Linked DNA regions of Homo sapiens: region 2 is linked to region 1. The links come from fine-mapping of genetic effects on gene expression. A gene starts in region 1. The other region holds a variant in brackets. All regions are shown on one strand. Distances are between the middles of the regions. Region 1 holds the start of TXNRD1 (thioredoxin reductase 1). Region 2 holds the start of EID3 (EP300 interacting inhibitor of differentiation 3).

What was found.
Region 2: its variant is fine-mapped to the expression of TXNRD1 in whole blood (INTERVAL, PIP 0.98).

Annotation. Positions count from the first base shown.
Region 1 is chr12:104,210,149-104,218,784 of GRCh38, reverse strand. It overlaps TXNRD1 (thioredoxin reductase 1), which reads right to left and starts at 3,006. Exons shown (of 17, transcript NM_001093771.3): 1 at 2,892-3,006. The coding sequence starts at 2,982. RefSeq lists enhancers at 1,998-2,613, 2,614-3,230 and a silencer at 3,054-3,143.
Region 2 is chr12:104,301,481-104,310,779 of GRCh38, reverse strand. The region is part of intron 4 of TXNRD1 (thioredoxin reductase 1); the gene reads right to left. EID3 (EP300 interacting inhibitor of differentiation 3) reads right to left here and starts at 7,041. Exons shown (of 1, transcript NM_001008394.3): 1 at 5,575-7,041. The coding sequence starts at 6,845. The coding sequence ends at 5,844. RefSeq lists enhancers at 6,604-6,663, 6,694-6,933, 6,241-7,113, 8,905-9,074 and a silencer at 6,974-7,203. The variant T/C (reference allele first, on the strand shown) is at 5,976.

The DNA of each region.
Region 1 (8,636 bases):
TGTAAAAAAATTAGCTGGGCTTGGTGGCACACTTTACCACACAGGAGGCTGAGGTGGGAGGATTGTTTAAGACCAGGCGGTTGAGGCTGCAATGAGCTATGATTGGGCCACTGCACTCCAGCCTGGGCAACAGAGCAAGACCCTATTTCAAAAAAAAAAAGAAAGAAAAGAAAAAGAAAAATACCTAGTATAAAGCCGTGCTTTAATAGATTAATGCTTAAAATATGCCTAAATTTAAGTTTCAAAAAGTAAATGTAAATAGGTGAAATTCTTCTATGCTGTTAGAAATCAGAGTAGTGTTTGCCCTTGGTATGGGGGTAAGAGACATTAGAGGGGCTCCTGGGGTACTGGAAACGTTTATTTCCTCAGCTGAGTGTGGGCTGCATGCATATACTTCGTTTGTAAAAATTTAGCAAGTTGTATTATAACGAGTGAGCTTTTCTGTATTATAAAATAGTTCAGGCCGGGCGTGGTGGCTCAAGCCTGTAATCCCAGCACTTTGGGAGGCTGAGGCGGGAAGATCACGAGGTCAAGAGTTCAAGACCAGCCTGGCCAACATGGTGAAACCCCGTCACTACTAAAAATACAAAGATTAGCTGGGCATGGTGGCGGGCCTGTAATCCCAGCTATTTGGGAGACTGAGGGAGGAGAATTGCTTGAACCCAGGAGGCGGAGATTGTGGTGAGCCAAGATCATGCCACGGCACTCCAGCCTGGCGATAGAGCAAGACTCCATCTCGGGAAAAAAAAAATGTGGTGTGTGTGTGTATATATATTCCATTTTGTGTGTGTGTGTGTGTATATATGTGTGTGTGTATGTACATATACACACACACAATGGAATATTATTCAGCCTTAAAAAGTAAGGAAATCCTGTCGCATGCTACAATACAGATGAAACTCGAAGACAAGTATGCTAAGTGAAACAAGCCAGTCACAAAAAGACAGACACTGTATGATACCAACTTATATAAGCAATCTAAAGTAGCCAAATTTCACAGAAACAGAAAGTAGAATGATGGATACCAGGGGCTGGGGGAAACGGCAAATGAAAAGTTAACGAGTTGGCATGGAGTTTCAGATTTGCAAGATGAAAAAGTTCAGGGGATCTGCTTCACAACAATGTGAATATACTTAATACTGCTGAAAACTGTATACTTAAAAACGGTTAGGGTCAGCTGGGTGCAGTGGCTCATGCCTGTAATCCCAGCACTTTGGGGAGCTGAGGTGGGCAGATCACCTGAGGTCAGGAGTTCAAGACCAGCCTGACCAACATGGTGAAAACCTGTCTCTATTAAAAATACAAAATTAGCCAGGCGTGGTGGTGCATGCCTGTAATCCCAGCTACTTGGGAGGCTGAGGCAGGAGAATCGCTTCAACCTGGGAGGTGGAGGCTGAGGTGAGCCAAGATGGCGCCATTGCACCCCAGCCTGGGCAACGAGAGCGAAACTAAAAAAAAAAAAAAAACAAAATTGTTAAGATGGTAAATTTTTTTTTTTTAACCACACACAAAAAGAATGTAGCTAAAGAAAAACAGTAAATAAATGGAAGGACATAGATATCAAGAAGATCCTGAGGATGGCACATGAAACGTCAATTTGGGATGCACCTGCTCAAACTCCTTCATTGTACTAATGGCCACAAATTAGCTGCCTGACCTGGACCTTGCCTGACCTTGCTCCTACCCTGTTCCTTTATTCTTCCCTTCCCCTAATCCAAGTCCTTAACTCCAGCAGGATATACAGGCCTCCCTATCTCTAGCATGGTCTCACCGGCTGCTTCCCCTAACAAGAATGTTCTCCCTTCAGACACCTCTACCAAATCCTACCTCATCTATGGGAGCTGCCATCCCCACTTGGCTGTTTTTACCACTCCTTTTAGCCCTTCACCATATGCTGCCTTGTAACTAAACTGTAAGCCTTTGAAAGAGGCAGATCCTACAGCATTTAATAATTCTAGCCATTGGGCAAGGCACTTTTTGGAGCCTCACTTTCTCAAGCCTATAAAAAAGGTGGAGGCGGCCATATGACTATGACCAGGGCTTTTGAGTCAGATGGCCTCAACTGGTATCCCAGCTCTTCCACTTACTAGTTGTGTGCTTTGGGTAAGTTTTATAACCTCTTTGCTTCTCAGTTTCTTCATCTGTATAATGGGGTTTATGATAAATCTCTCAGTATGGCTGGAAACATGAACCAAGATTATTACCCATGTCTAGTGCTTCCAAAGGCCCCTCTCATGTCAGTGCTTAGTAACCACTAGCCATTATTGGCATTATCCGGACAATGGAGAAGAGACTGGGAGCTTTCTCTTCTGGAAGAACAAGTGAAAGGATAAAGCGGGATGATGGTGGGAGAAATGTGCCCAAAATTCAAGGGGATGGAGAAAGGGGGCCGGGAAGGCGTGTCGGACAAGATTCTCGATGGAGGAGGATGCTGGGAGTGGGCCGGGGGCTTCTGGAGAGGTGAAGGGGCACCCCCGGACTCGGCTGTCGGTTTGGTCGCTTCCCCCGTAACCTTTCATTGGAAACACGGTGCTTGTAGGAAGAGGACGCCCTAACGGGCCCTGAGCGAAATCAGGCGGGTCGCTGCCGAGATCTCGGTTCGGTTTCCGACAGGTTTCCGGGCAGGTCCTCGCGGCGGGCCCGCTCCTCCTTCCACCTCCCACCTCTCTCACAGCCAGCGGGCGGGGCAGCCCTCGGCCGGCCGCCGGCCTCCGTCTCCCGGGGTGACCTGGGGGAGCGTTTCTGGGGTCTCCAGCGTGGCGCGCGGTCAGTCACTGACTCCAGTGAGGGGCTTCAAGGCCAGGGCTCCGGGGCACTTTATCCCCAACCCCGGCCGGAAGGCCCGCTTCGGCCCGTCGACCTGGGGACCAGGCCTTCGCCCTCGGTCGTACCTGACCTACGGCGGCCATCGCCGTTCTTGCCTTTCGTCTGCAGCTCCGTTGGGGCGGCCGCCGCCACTGCCTTGCCCTCGGCGCAGCCCATGTCGCACAAGGCCCTGTGGGAACTGACGGAGCCGAAGGACGCCTGGCGGAGGCCGCGAGCCCCCTGCCGGCCGCGGGTCGGAGAACGCGGTGGGCGGGGCGCTCGGTGACAACAGCGAAGTCATAGCCCGTGTATCTTCTTCAAGGTCGTGAATTTTTTTTTTTTAACAGGAAAGAACGGTCGCTAAAGGTAAATTGGAAAATGCAGAAATGGAAAGGAGAAAAGAGCGCACCACCCAAAATCCTTATCCTTCGGCTGGGCGCGGTGGCTTACACCTGTGCACTTTGGGAGGCCGAGGTGGGAGGATTGATCGCTTGAGCCCAGGAGTTTGAGACCATCCTGGGCAATGTAGAGAAACCCTGTTTCTACAAAAAATAATTTTAAAAAATTTATCCTTCACACAAACTACTTTTGCTGTGTTTACTATTTCTTTCCAGTTTTTCCCCTCTATGCATAGTTTTGCATCCAGCATTTCACTTAATACTAGTATTTTCCATACTATCACATAGTCTTGTAAGCCTCCCAGATAACCACCTGGCTTCCACTGTCACTTCAGTCTTTGCCTCTTTGACCGTAGATGAAGCATACACTGAACATCGTAGTTTCTTTTTAATACACTTTATTTTTTAGAGCAGTCTTTTTTTTTTTTTTTTTTTGAGACGGAGTCTCACTCTGTCACCCAGGCTGGAGTGCAGTGGCGCGATCTCAGCCCACTGCAACCTCTGCCTCCCAAGTTCAAGCGATTCTCCTGCCTCAGCCTCCCGAGTAGCTGGGACTACAGGCGTGTGCCACCATGCCCAGCTAATTTTTTGTATTTTTAGTAGAGACGGGGTTTCACCGTGTTAGGCAGGATGGTCTCGATCTCCTGACCTTGTGATCCGCCCGCCTCGGCCTCCCAAAGTGCTGGGATTACAGGCGTCAGCCACTGCGCCTGGCCTTAGAGCAGTCTTAAGTTCACAGCAAAAAGACCATCCTATTTGAACAGAAATCTGATCACGCCCCCCTCAACTCTACCCCCACCCTTTACTTTACTCTATTTTATTTTTACCAGCACTGAGAGCCTTCTAACTTACCCTATATTCTCTGTCACCTGCTCCCACTCCCTCCGCCAGCCTCCCCACGACACCCTGCCCATGTAAACGCTGCCAAAATAGAACCTTTGCATTTTTTTCTTGTATCTTGGCCTTCAGCTTGGGCCAGGTGGCCTCCCCCACCTCTTGAAGGAAAGCAGGGAAGAAGCGGGAAAATATTAATTTGAATAATTATAATAATGTAATAGTCCATCCACTAGAGCTACTGGACGATTACATAGCCTATTATTAGATGTTTAGTTTGTTTTTTATTTTTAAAAATTATGAATAAGGCTGCAGGGAACATCTTTGTGTTTATAGTTTTAAGGCTGTCATTACACGTTGCCAAAATTGCTTTTTTGGAACTGTGGTTCCCATTTGAACTCCTACTAGTAATGAATGAGAGTGATTTTTTTTAACACCAAACCACATTGCGGCACATCAGGTGCACAGTCACTGTTCTCTATCAGTGCAGTGCTCTGTTTTTCCTTCTTTCAATTAACTAACATATGGTAAGCATCCAACTTATGCCTGGCTTTGTTTAGGGTTACAAGGTGACTCAAATTCCCTGGTCTCAAGGAACTTCCACCCCAGCTGAGATTTAGTGAACTTGTCTGGTCACCAGATGCGTGGCAATTGTGTGGGCCCTTTGTTTTCATTTGGGTTTGTGGACAAGCTTATATCCTGCTTCTCTGGAGAGCAGCCCAGAGTCAAAATGCTCTTGGAAAACACTGGGTGTTTATTTGCTTAAACACAGAAAACAAATAAAACTGAACCAAAGGCTTTTTTTTTTTTTTTTTTTGGAGATGGAGTCTCGCTCTGTTGCCCAGACTGGAGTGCAGTGGCACGATCTCGGCTCACTGCAAGCTCCGCCTCCCGGGTTCACGCTATTCTTCTGCCTCAGCCTCCCTAGTAGCTGGGACTACAGGCGTCCACCACCACGCTAATTTTTTTTGGTATTTTTAGTAGAGACGGGGTTTCACCATGTTAGCCAGGATGTTCTCAATCTCCTGACCTTGTGATCCACCCACCTCAGCCTCCCAAAGTGCTGGGATTACAGGCATGAGCCACCGTGCCCGGCCACCAAAGGCTTTTAATAACAGACATTGCACAAAGCTAAAGTAAATCTCTCTCTCTCTCTTTCTTTTTTTTTTTTTTTTTTTGAGATGGAGTTTTGCTCTTGTTGCCCAAGCTAGAGTGCAATGGCACAATCTTGGCTCACTGCAACCTCCACCTCCCAGGTTCAAGTGATTCTCCTGCCTCAGCCTCCCAAGTAGCTGGGATTACAGGCATCAGCCACCATGCCTGCCTAATTTTTTGTATTTAGTAGAAAAAGGGTATCACCATGTTGGTCAATCTGGTATCAAACTCCTGACCTCAGGTGATCCACCTGCATCAGTCTCCCAAAGTGCTCGTATTACAAGTGTGAGCCACCGTGCCCGGCCCTAAAGTAAATCCTAATAACAACTTCATCCAAGTGTTTGGTGTCTGTAGTAACTAATGCAACTAAGCCAGGACCCTTTAAAAGCAAAGTTCCCTCCCTCTGCGAGCCAGGTCTACAGTTCCTTGGTTCCACTGGAATGACTGTTTCAGAGATTTTTTTTTTAAATATGCTATTCAATTTATGTTAAAATTACCATTTTATCATCAAAATTCCAACTGTGGCTGTCATGTATTTTTCTCTATTTAGTACATGTATTTAACTAAGATGATGGCTTTCCTGTTATTTTAAACACCTAGGCAAAAGTATCTGAGAGTCATGTGCCTACCTGTGTCATCCTATCATATTTATAATAGCCAACAATTTGTTGGGTACTTACGGCGAGCCAGGCATCCTGCTAAGTCCTTTACTGGCATAAAAGTATGCTTATCTCATGTTTTTCCTGCAAGAGCCACATTTAGAAGGGTCTCTTATTATTCCTATTTTACAGAGGAGAATCCTGATGCTTAGGGGATTAATTGCACAGGATCACACAGCTTGATACTGAAATCCAGGTTTCCTAATTTCCAAGCCTCTGCTCTTAACCACTAACCTCTCTTATTACTATGACATCACACTCCACTAATTCCTATACATGAAAAGAATGTTTCCCTGGGAACTTTGTTTTGAGATTTAATTTTTTTAATTTTTTTTTTTTTTATGAGATGGAGTCTCACTATGTCGCCCAGGCTGGAGTGCAGTGGTGAGATCTTGGCTCACTGCAAGCTCCTCCCGGGTTCACGCCATTCTCCTGCCTCAGCCTCCTGAGTAGCTGGGACTACAGGCGCCCGCCACCACACCCAGCTAATTTTTTTTTATTTTTAGTAGAGACGGGTTTCACCGTGTTAGCCAGGATGGTCTCGATCTCCTGACCTCGTGATCCCCCCGCCTTGGCCTCCCAAAGTGCTGGGATTACAGGCTTGAGCCATCGCACCCGGCCTAATTTTTTTTTTTTTTTTGAGATGGAGTCTCACTCTGTCACCCAGGCTGGAGTGCAGTGGTGCCGTCTTGGCTCACTGCAACCTCCACCTCCCGGGTTCAAGCAGTTCTCCTGCCTAGCCTCCTGAGTAGCTGGGACTATAGGTGCACGCCACCACACCTGGCTACTTTTTTGTATTTTTAGTAGAGATAGGGTTTCACCATGTTGGCCAGGCTGGTCTTGAACTCCTGACCTTAGGTGATCCACCCGCCTTGGCCTCCCAAAGTGGCGTGAGCCACTGCACCTGGCCATTGAGTTTTAATTTAATTATACATGATTTGTTTAAAGAGCATCAAAAGGGAGGGCATCTCTTTTCTTTTTTTGAGACAGAGTCTCACTCTGTCGCCCAGGCTGGAGTGCAGAGGCACACTTTCAGCTCACTGCAACCTCCATCTCCCGGGTTCAAGCAATTCTCCTGCCTCAGCCTCCTGAGTAGCTAGGATTACAGGTGCATGCCACCACACCCAGCTAATTTTTTATATTTTTGGTAGAGACGGGGTTTCATCATGTTGGCCAGGCTGGTCTCAAACTCCTGACCTCAGATGATCCACCCACCTCGGCCTCCCAAAGTGCTGGGATTACAGGCGTGAGCCACCATGCCTGGGGGAGGGCATCTCTTTTCTACCCAATAATAATTAATTCCCAGTCCTCATCTTACTTGGCCTATCCATGACATATGACCCATGTTTCATAATCTCCTCCTTAGAATGATTGGCTTCCAGGGTACCACACTAACCTAGATTTTCTCCTATTGTGCTGGATGCCCCTACTCAGTCTCCTTTGCTGGTTCCTCCTCAATTTTCCTGGCACTTAATATTGAAGTACTAAAGCTCAGTCCTCGAACTTCTCCCCTCCTCTCTCTCTTATAATCTGCATTTGCTTCTCTGGTGATCTCCTTTAGTCTCAGAGCTTTAAATGTCATCTATCTGCTGACAACTCCCAAACTTATGTCTCCTGCTGCAGCCACTTTCATTAACTCCAGGCTCACATATTCACCTGGCACCTGGCATCTCCACTTGAGTGTCTAATAAACATCTCAAGCCTAAAATGTCCAAGCAGATTGTCCCCTCCCAAACCTATTCCCACGGTCTTCCCCATCTCAGAAAATGGCAACTCCATTCTTCCACTTGCTCAGGCCAAAAACCTTGGCGTCATCCTTGATTCTTCTCTCTCATACTCCACCTTCAATTGGCCGGCAAGTCCTGTCCACTCTACCTTCAAATGATATTTAAAAATGAATAAATTGGCCGGGAGCGGTGGCTCACGCCTGTAATCCCAGCTCTTTGGGAGGCCGAGGCAGGTGGATCACGAAGTCAGATCGAGACCATCCTGGCTAACATGGTGAAATCCCCTCTCTACTAAAAAAATACAAAAAAATTAGCCAGGCGTGGTGGCAGGCGCCTGTAGTCCCAGCTACTCGGGAGGCTGAGGCAGGAGAATGGCGTGAACCCGGGGGGCGGAGCTTGCAGTGAGCCGAGATCCCGCTACTGCACTCCAGCCTGGGCGGCAGAGCGAGACTCCGTCTTAAATAAATAAATAAATAAATAAATAAATAAATAAATAAATTCCCTACATCCAGCTTATAGGAAAAAGAAGATAAAGGAACAAGTTAAACAACACTATGGGGATGTAAATGGCAAAATCCAGAATCTGCCAATTTCATCCACAAATACAGTAATTGCAAGGGAAGAAAAAGAGGAAGTGGGAACTTATTGATGAAAAGAGACTTAGGATATATGAAGTACCCAGAGTTGTCAAATTCGCAAAGACAGAAGGTAGAATAGTGGTTGCCAGGGATTTGGGGGAGGGGGAAATTAGGAGTTTAATTTAATGGGTACAGAGTTTTAATTTGGTAAGATAGAAGTAGTTCTGGAGACGGATGGTGTGATGGTTCCACACAGTGTAAATGTGCTTAATGCCACTAAGCTGTATACTTTAAAATGCTTAAAATTGTCAATTTCTCATGTATATTTTACTACAATATAAAGAGGGAGAGAGAGAGAGAGACAGGAGACACATCAACCAAATGCAGTGCACTTTGGGTTCTGATGTCAAAAAAAATCAACAAATTAATTTTTAAAAAAATTGTGGCCGGGCGTGGTGGCTCACGCCTACAATCCCAGCA
Region 2 (9,299 bases), 92 kb before region 1:
TGTAGGATATTTTAAATAGGCACAACTCTGCAAAGCTCATTCCTTTAATTTGCATATGCATGAAGTCTCCCATATTTAATATTTACTTTCCATATACTTAGCAAGTAACAGACTTTTATAATTTAGGTGTTAGACTTAATTTTTAAAAAATCATTTCATTCCACTAATATAATTCTGATACACATTAATTATATTTCATATTCGTTTCATACAATATTTTGGTGATATATTTAATATTATCGCTTACTAAAATAAAAATCTATGTTAACAAGAGATAATGACTGAGAAAGTTGTTAACAAGCACAATAAAATGTTTTCAAAAAATCAAGTAGGCCAGGCACAGTGGCTCACGCCTGTAATCCCAGCACTTCGGGAGGCCAAGGCGGGAGGATCACTTGAAGTCAGGAGTTTGAGATCAGCCTGGCCAACGGGGTGAACCCTGTCTCTACTAAAAATACAAAAATTAGCCAGGTGTAGTGGCGGGTGCCTGTAATCTCAGCTACTCCGGAGGCTGAGGCAGGAGAAGCGCTTGAACCCGGGAGGCAGACGTTGCAGTGAGCCAAGATTGCGCCACTGCACTCCAGCCTGGGAGTCTCACAGAGTGAGACTCCATCTCATTTTAAAAAACAAACAAACAAAAAGCCTTAACTTTAATAACAAAAAAAAGCCCCCAAACTTACCAGCCCAAACTGCACATTTCTCTCTTGCCTACTATCAGATGTAGGGGGTGAAAGGCAGAGCTTGGGGTCAGCGGAAGAAGAAGGTTCTTGGGATGTGGAAGGGGGTGCGGTGGAGCAATGTGAAGGAGGAAGCACAGCACTGTGGCTACCTGTTGGCAGCATGGCGGGCATACGTAGTGGCTCAGGGACTGAAGGGAGAACACCTGGAAACCAGCAACAGTGGGGGCAAGACTGCACCACTCTGACAGTCTGCACAAAAGGTCTAGCACAAGAGGCTGGTAAACACAGCCAGTAGTCATCAACTGGCATTATGGCCAAGGTTCCTCCTTCAATACAAAGCACTGTGGGGGAAAAACAATTTGGTAATAATAGCCATTCGATCAAAGGATCAATTATGCTTCAAGTAACTAGTGTGACTCCCTACTGGGTCTCAAAGAGCATGACTTCCTGGTTTAAGAGTTAACTAATAAATCCAGTTAGATGTTCTGCTGGAAAAATAACATACAATCATTTTTTATCTCAACCTCATTTTATCTGCATGAAATTAGCAAAGATGGTGACAGAACACAATAACTGGCTGTCTAAATGAAAACCATGGTTCTAGGAATCCCCCTCCTCCAACATACCTACTAGAACAAATACCAGAAAATGTATCCTCATGCTGAAAAGTCACATATTCCCTTCACCAATGTTTACAATCCGTTCCTTACTGAAATTCTGTATGTAACCTGGCTTCTCCTGGTTCAAGCTTCAAGTCAAATTGTATCAACCAGTGCACAGATTTTACCAAAAAAGCTCTGAATGAACCTCACCATTTTTAAGCACTGTAGGTAAAATTTACCAATTGGCAAGACACAGGCAATTGAAGCATTCAGTTGACCTTAGAATGAAACATTATGAGACTGAGTGAGGTGGCTCATGCCTGTAATCCCAGCACTTTGGGAGGCCGAAGCGGGAGGGCTGCCTGAGCTCAGGAGTTCACAATCAGCCTGGGCAACACGGTGAAACCCCGTCTCTACCAAAATACAAAAAAAATTAGCCGGGCGTGGAGGCGTGCACCTGTAGTCCCAGCTATTCGGGAGGCTGAGGCAGGAGAACTGCTTGAACCCAGGAGGCGGAGATTGCAGTGAGCCAAGATCATGGCACTGCACTCCAGCCTGGGTGACAGAGCAAGACTCCGTCTCAAAAAAAAAAAAAAAAAGAAACATTGTTTTTAAAATTTTAACCAAACTTAAAATTGAAAGTGCTATCATTCAGTTCCATTTAAGTGGTACTTCACCTGAAATATAAATAAGACAGACAGTAGAAAACAGCTGCCCCAAACAGTAGAAGGTAGCACAGAGATGGGATAAGGAAAGGAGAAAAATTCCCCCATCCTCCTCCAACTACAACTGCTTGAAATTATGTCCGCTGACTGTGGTGGCTGCTACAGAGGTTCTCAAACTCTTTCATCTCAGGACTCCTTTACAATCTTAAACAGAGCTTTAAAATTGAGACTCCAAAGAGCTTGTTAATGTGGGTTTTATCTATTTACTATATTAGAAATTAAAACTAAGAAGAAACTTAAAATATTCATTAACAAATTAAAAATAATATATTTATTAAATGTTAACGTATTTTTATTTTAAAAAATTTTTTAATTAGAAGAATGGCACTGTTTTGTATCTTTGCGATTCTCTTTAATGTCTGACAACAAAAGACAGCTCATATCTGTTTCTCCATTCAATCTGTTGCCACATCACCTGTCATATAACCTCTGGAAAACTTCACAGTTTACATGCAAGAGAATTAAGAGTGAAAAGGGCAGCGAGGCGTGGTGGCTCACGCCTGTAATCCCAGCACTTTGAGAGGCCAAGGCGGGTGGATCATGAGGTCTGGAGATCGAGACCATCCTGGCTAACACGGTGAAACCCCGTCTCTACTACAAATATAAAAAATTAGCTGGGCGTGGTGGCAGGCGCCTGTAGTCCCAGCTACTCGAGAGGCTGAGGCAGGAGAATGGCGTGAACCCGGGAGGCGGAGCTCACAGTGAGCCAAGATCATGCCACTGCACTCCAGCCTGGGCTACAGAGTGAGACTCCATCTCAAAAAAAAAAAAAAGAAAGAAAAGGGCAAACAGCATCTTACTATTATGAAAATAATTCTGACCTTAAAGTATGCCAAAAGGGCCTCATACACTTTGAGAACCAATGCTATAGAATATGAGATGACCTGCAGGCAACTGTCACTTGTTGGCAAGGCTTACACATTAGATAGCCTTCCTTTTCATCCACCTGCCTGTCATAGTAATCCCTTTCCCCAGACCCACTCCTAGTAAAACACTGCTCCAGGCTCCCCCAAAAAGGGCACAAAACAGAAAGCAATTCAACTGTGGCAGTCTTTTAAAATTGGAATAAGCAATCCTGACTTTTCCCCTAAACATAGTTTCTATCCTTTGCCAGATTTGTACTTTTATTTCCCCTACCATTATAGATGGCTCTGATGCAGAAATAACCTGCGTTAAAATACTTGCTCTACCACTCACAAGGCCAGGTGACTTCGACCAATCACCTAATCCTTAACGAAGCTAACAGGTTCCTGACCTCATCAAATGGCTGAGTTTAAGAAAGATAATGCATGTTAGCATAGTGGCTGGTAGGAATTAATCCCTTTAAGTTACTAATTCTCCATCTCCTGAAGAAGGGAAATTGCCTGGAACTAAGTCAAGAAGTGCTGGAATGTATTTACACTGGTGTCCTCCGCTGAGCTTCCCTGCGTCAATCTCCACTATTTTGAAATGCCCTCTTCCTAACAAATCTTGATCCAGTATATAGACAGACTAGCATAATGTTATTTCTATTCAGTATACAAACGTATTAGCAAGAAACAAGCAGATTTGCAGTTTGATTCTTAACCTCTATAAATTTTTAATCTCCTTTTTTCTTCAAGGTAAGCAGTCAGTTTAATTTCAAAATTTCAAAAATGATGAGGCAATCCATCATCCTCATCATTTTACTGGTTGGTGTCATGCCAACCAGTAAAAATAGAAACAGAAGTGGTCAACTTTATATTTTAACAGCTATTAACTTTAGAGAAGACCAAAAAAATTACCTCTCCTAAGCCTCCAGATTCTCTATTAATGCTTTTAAATCATCACTGTCAAATACTCCTAGTAAAGACATGAGACATTCAACAGAGCAACTGAATGTCAGTAAAGTACTGGGGCGGGATCTTTTTGCTGTCATTAAGAGTACTTTTTCTTCCAACAGCAGATCTCTGCAAAACCCAAGGAACTTGGTTGGTAGAGACATGCTGGAAATGAGGATGAGTGAGATCAAATGGTGCTTCCATGACTGCTACTATAAATCAAAGGATACTAGACACTAGCAAGGGTCAGCGCTCTTTCATATGTGAAAGGAGTAACTAATTTAGAAAATAATTTGCCAAGTTTCATGAGAAAGTTCTATTTTTGCTAAAACCTCTACTCTATTATTGGTGAAGAACCTCATCTCCATACATGAAAAATCCTTCCTCTCAGTCTTGGTGTCATTTGTTGAGTCTTTGGATTTCCCTTTCCTGTACCACTAGACTTACTAGGAAAGTTTGCCACTGCTATGCATAACAGATACCTAAACATTTGCCAAAGTATTGTTTAATGGCAAAATTCCACGACTACCAAAAATTAAGCTCCTATAGGGATCAAGGGGAAGAAAGCTTATGGGTATGCTTACTGCACCTTCTCAAGTTACTTTCTTAATGACCCAAACTTTTGGCAATAATCTCCAAATAAGGTTGTAATTTATGCAACGGAAAGAAAAAAGCCTTTATGGCTTTACACTAAGTGAAGAACATCCAGATAAACTAACATGTTTTAGTTTCAGCAAGGTCAGTTTCCTGGCATTTAAAGCCCTATTAAGAAATGCAAAATTTGGCTCACACTTGTAATCCCAGCATTTCCGGAGGCCGAGGCGGGTGGATCACTTGGGGCCAGGTGTTCGAGACCAGCCTGGCTACCATGGCGAAACTCTGTTCCTACTAAAAATACAAGTATTTGCTGGGTGTGATGGCACACACCTGTAATCCCGGCTACTTGGGAGGCTGAGGCACAAGAATCGCCTGAACCCCGCAGGCAGAGGTTGCAGTGGGCCGAGATTGCACCACTGCACCCCAGCCTGGGCAAGAGTGATACTCTGTCTCGAGGGGGAAAAAAAAAGATAGAAATGCAAAATTAAAGTGGGACAAATATTCAAAGTTGTTACATGATGAAAAAGCGTAGATTGTGAAGGACATTCTATGTACTAGCAAAGACCACAAAGGGACACTAGGGGCCAGAGAAGAAATTCAGTAGATAAAAACTACAACTGGATAGCAAGATCTTGTGTTCAATGTATAATAGTTTGACAAAAACATCTTCTCAGGATATTAATAGATGAAGTTATTCAATTGTTGCCCAGCTTATCAAATATAATAGTTTTTCCATAAATCTAATGGTCCTCTCGTGCCTAACTTCTAACAATTCCATGCATTTGACCTTGCTATTCTCTTGCCTAGAATGCCTTTTCCTTCTTCGTGTTTCTACTCACCTTTCACCCTTAGCTGATACCTCAACTACTACAGCAGAGACACTACTTTTGCTGAGTACAATAACAGAAATTGTTTAGAATATGGATACTCACTCATAAATCCTAAGTCTTCCTTGCAATGACTTTTTTAGTCTTAATGTTGCATATTCACTGCCTTACAGACAGGTTTTTTTTTTTAACTTTTGTTTTTTACCCACTCTTTGCCCAACCTGGTTAGGAACCCTTTCTGGGATTCTCTTGGTTCCCTATGACAGAGAAAGCAACGCATCACAGAGCATCATCACTGATTTTCGTAAATTATTATGTTTTGCAAATTATCAAATATCCCTTAATTTGGTATCCAAAACTTGTTTTTATTAATAGTCTTAAAGGGCATTCAATAAAACGTTCCCATAAATATGCCAGTGAATTTGTTTTAATAACAGAAGATCATGACCTTATAAATTACTAAGAAAAATATGCTGCACAGTAAAACAATGTCTGATGTTCTTGAAAATACTTTTTCACTTTACAAGAGATACAATATGTGCTTCAGTTTACATTTTACTCTCCATCTAACTTCAGAAAAAAAACACAAAAAGGATGCTATACTAAGAAATCTTTAGTATGAGGAGTATGTAATCATAGCCTCAGAAATTTCAAAAGCTGCCACAATGTTTTTCCACTCCTGTAAAGTCAAAGATATAACTCCCTGTTTCCTGCCATGGCAACTGGAATCATTTCCCTCACCCAT[T/C]TGGTTAACATTCATCGGCTCTAATATTGGCAGCCTGTCTTCATCAAGCCTTATTCTTGCAAAACCATCTCTTACAATAAAAGAAACATAAAATATATTCTCCACAGTACGAGAAAAAGAGTTTGGATCAATCACAAACTCAAAATAGGACACAGGAGTATCAGGATACTTTCGAAAGTAGGTTTGCAACAATCCCAAAATCCTTTCTACGTTTTTTTCTGTCGCTTCTGGATAACTACTCAGGTCCAACTTCTGCAACTTTGTAGGCATGTTGCCATTTTCTTCCATCTTGCGAACTTTTTTCTGGTGTTCAAGTCGGGGCTTTGGTGCAGAACGTTCTAGCTTGAATGAACCAAAAACAAAATGGAATGTCTCAGCTTTTACCATCCAGGATGTTGCTTCCTTTTCTATTGCCTTCCAGAAGGAAAGAGCTATGCTATCATCACAATCACTCAACTTGTCAGGATCGCCTTCCATCCAATTCAGACCCACGAACAGAAACAGAAAGTCACAAAATGCTAACTGATTAAAGAAGTTCATATCTGAGTTTAACTGCTTTGCCTTTTCTTTACCCAAATCAGAAGCCATAACAAGAAACCGGGCGTCGAGGGCTGCTTCTCTGGTTCGGCTCACGCCATCAAAGAGGACGTTGGCTTCCTCCAGAGCCTCGGTTAAGGAGTTGTTCGCCGAGCTCACGATGTCCTCCCGGTTCTGCCGCACGCAGTACATGAGCTGCCGGTACTGCCTGCGGATGCTGCGGCACTTCTCCTCGTCAGCGGTGAGCTCCAGGAGCTTTGGGTCTACGTCGGCCTCCCCAGAGCTGAGGTCGTCGGAGCAGCCCGCGGCCCTCACTGACACATCCATCTTCATCAGCGCTCCCTCCGCCGCCGCCTACTTCGCCGCGTACTCGCTACCGGGGATGATCACGAGCTGCTCCTCTCCTTTCTCTTCGTCTCCCTTCCGGGAAGCTTTTTCAACCAACATGCCGGCCACGGGTATCTCTGAGGTAACGGCCCTCCCAGCGTGTGGAAAGTGGCGGCAGTTAGAGCCGAGGACGCCCGCCCATGCGCACTAGCGGCCCGGCCCGGCGCGACCCGCCCCCAGCACGCTCCGCGGGAAGACAGCCCCGCCCCGGCCCGGCCCAGCCACAAGCCGAGGCGCTCGCTCATAGACCAGCGCGGCGCTCCCAACACGCGCAATGATGGGCCCTGACCTCACACGCGACTAATGCCCGCTCAGGGGACAGCTATTCTTTTTCAAAGCGTTTACCGACTGGATCACCTCACTTTAAAAAAAAACACTTTTGGACAACTTTACACAAAACTATTGAGGAGACTAAAGGTCCTGCGCTTTAAAACGCTCGCTGCCATCATATACTGCAGTGAGGTCGACCTGGTTTTGGTTTTTTGTGAACTAAATCTGGCTGGACTGTAAACCGTCGGTAAGGCCAAGGACCGTGAAAAGCAGAAACTCCATTAAGCAGGCTAAACTCTCAGTTCTTTTGCAAGGTGGTGTTTGGACTCATTATACAAATGTAAATCGGGTTAATTACTTTCACATGTCCTCTTAAAAACCAAGCCCCCTCCAATACCCATCCTGAGTATCTGTGGGATCGGGGGAGCCTCCAATATCCGTGCTAACCCCTGCAGGAAACTGGGTGCTGGGCACGGGCATTACTCAGGTGAACTTTGGTTCTCCACTACCCAGGAGTGGAAGAATAGAATGGGTAGAGATCTCTGCAAAAGAGCTATTTACTTGGAAGCTTGCCAACAGCTAAAGGCCACCGACACTGAATGGGTAGTAACTCTGAACCCTAAAAGGTGGGCAAAGCTATGAAAATTTCAGATACAGTCTAAGGATATGAAAGCTTAATCTGTAAACTGGGTGAGTAATCTGCGTGGGAAAATTTACCCATTGGATTTAATGGGGTCACTGGAAACTCAAGTGCAGTTAAAGACGTGACTCCTTATCTGTCTCACCAGCAGCAAATAGCAAAGTATACATAACAATGGGAATGGCCGGGCGCGGTGGCTCACGCCTGCAATCCCAGCACTTTGGGAGGCCGAGGCGGGCGGATCACGAGGTCAGGAGATCGAGACCATCTTGGCTAACCCGGTGAAACCCCGTCTCTACTAAAACTACAAAAAATTAGCCGGGCGCGGTGGCAGGCGCCTATAGTCCCAGCTACTCGGTAGGCTGAGGCAGAAGAATGGCGTGAACCCAGGAGGCGGAGTTTGCAGTGAGCCGAGATCGGGCCACTGCACTCCAGCCTGGGCTATAGAGCGAGACTCCGTCTCAAAAAAAAAAAAAAAAAAAAAGGGAATGAATACATCTGGTTTTTAAAGAGAACATGCACACAAACAACCCATGAGCATCAACAGCTTTTCAAACCTGCAACAGGTACACCTTAAAAAAAAAAAGACACCCACAATTGCACCTGTCCAATTGCCAGTTTCATAGCACCAGGAAGTAAATTAGCCCTACCTTCCTTTATGCATATAGACTTGTTCTATTTCTTTAGCATTAGCAGAAAGTTTTTTGTAAATGTATAAACAGCAAAATCTAGTAGTATTAAGTTACTCCAAAATCCTTATATTACCATTTGCTCCCAATTATTTTATTAACTAGGGGTAATTCAGGGAGATACGTGCATTTTTCAAAACACCATGCATTACGGTTAGTTGTACATATATATGATCCTACCCTATTAGATTGTTGGCTTCTCAAAAACAAAAGCTGCGTTTTAGATCTTCCAAACATAGCTGTTTTTACACGGAGATGCACTTATGTACTGAATGTATAACTTAAAATAGATTTAAAACTATCCCAGCATCTACTGCAAGTTATTTGGCAGCAAAGATTTAAGTTCACAGATTCGTGGAATTAATCCTACACACTGAAAGGAAAAGTTGACTGCTCTTCAGAAAAAGTTCTTATCCCTCTTCTAAAATAAAGGAAAAATGAAAGAAAGGTAAGTTGAGACCCAGGATCATTCAAGGATCGTATCTGTCCCTAGTCTGGCCAATTACAAACTAGTATTTGAACTTGTTTTAAATCTTAGGTGAAAATACAGTTAAGAATTCCAAGACCCAAATCCAAAAAAGTCTGCTTTTACAGTGAACGATATTCTTAGGAGCTTCTCACATCCACTTTAAATTCAACAAAAGCAGCCGGGCACGGTGGCTCACGCCTGTAATCCCAGCACTTTGGGAGGCTGAGGCGGGCGGATCACGAGGTCAGGAGATCAAGACCGTCCTGGCTAACACGGTGAAACCCCGTCTCTACTAAAAATACAAAAAATTAGCCGGGCGTGGTTGCAGGCGC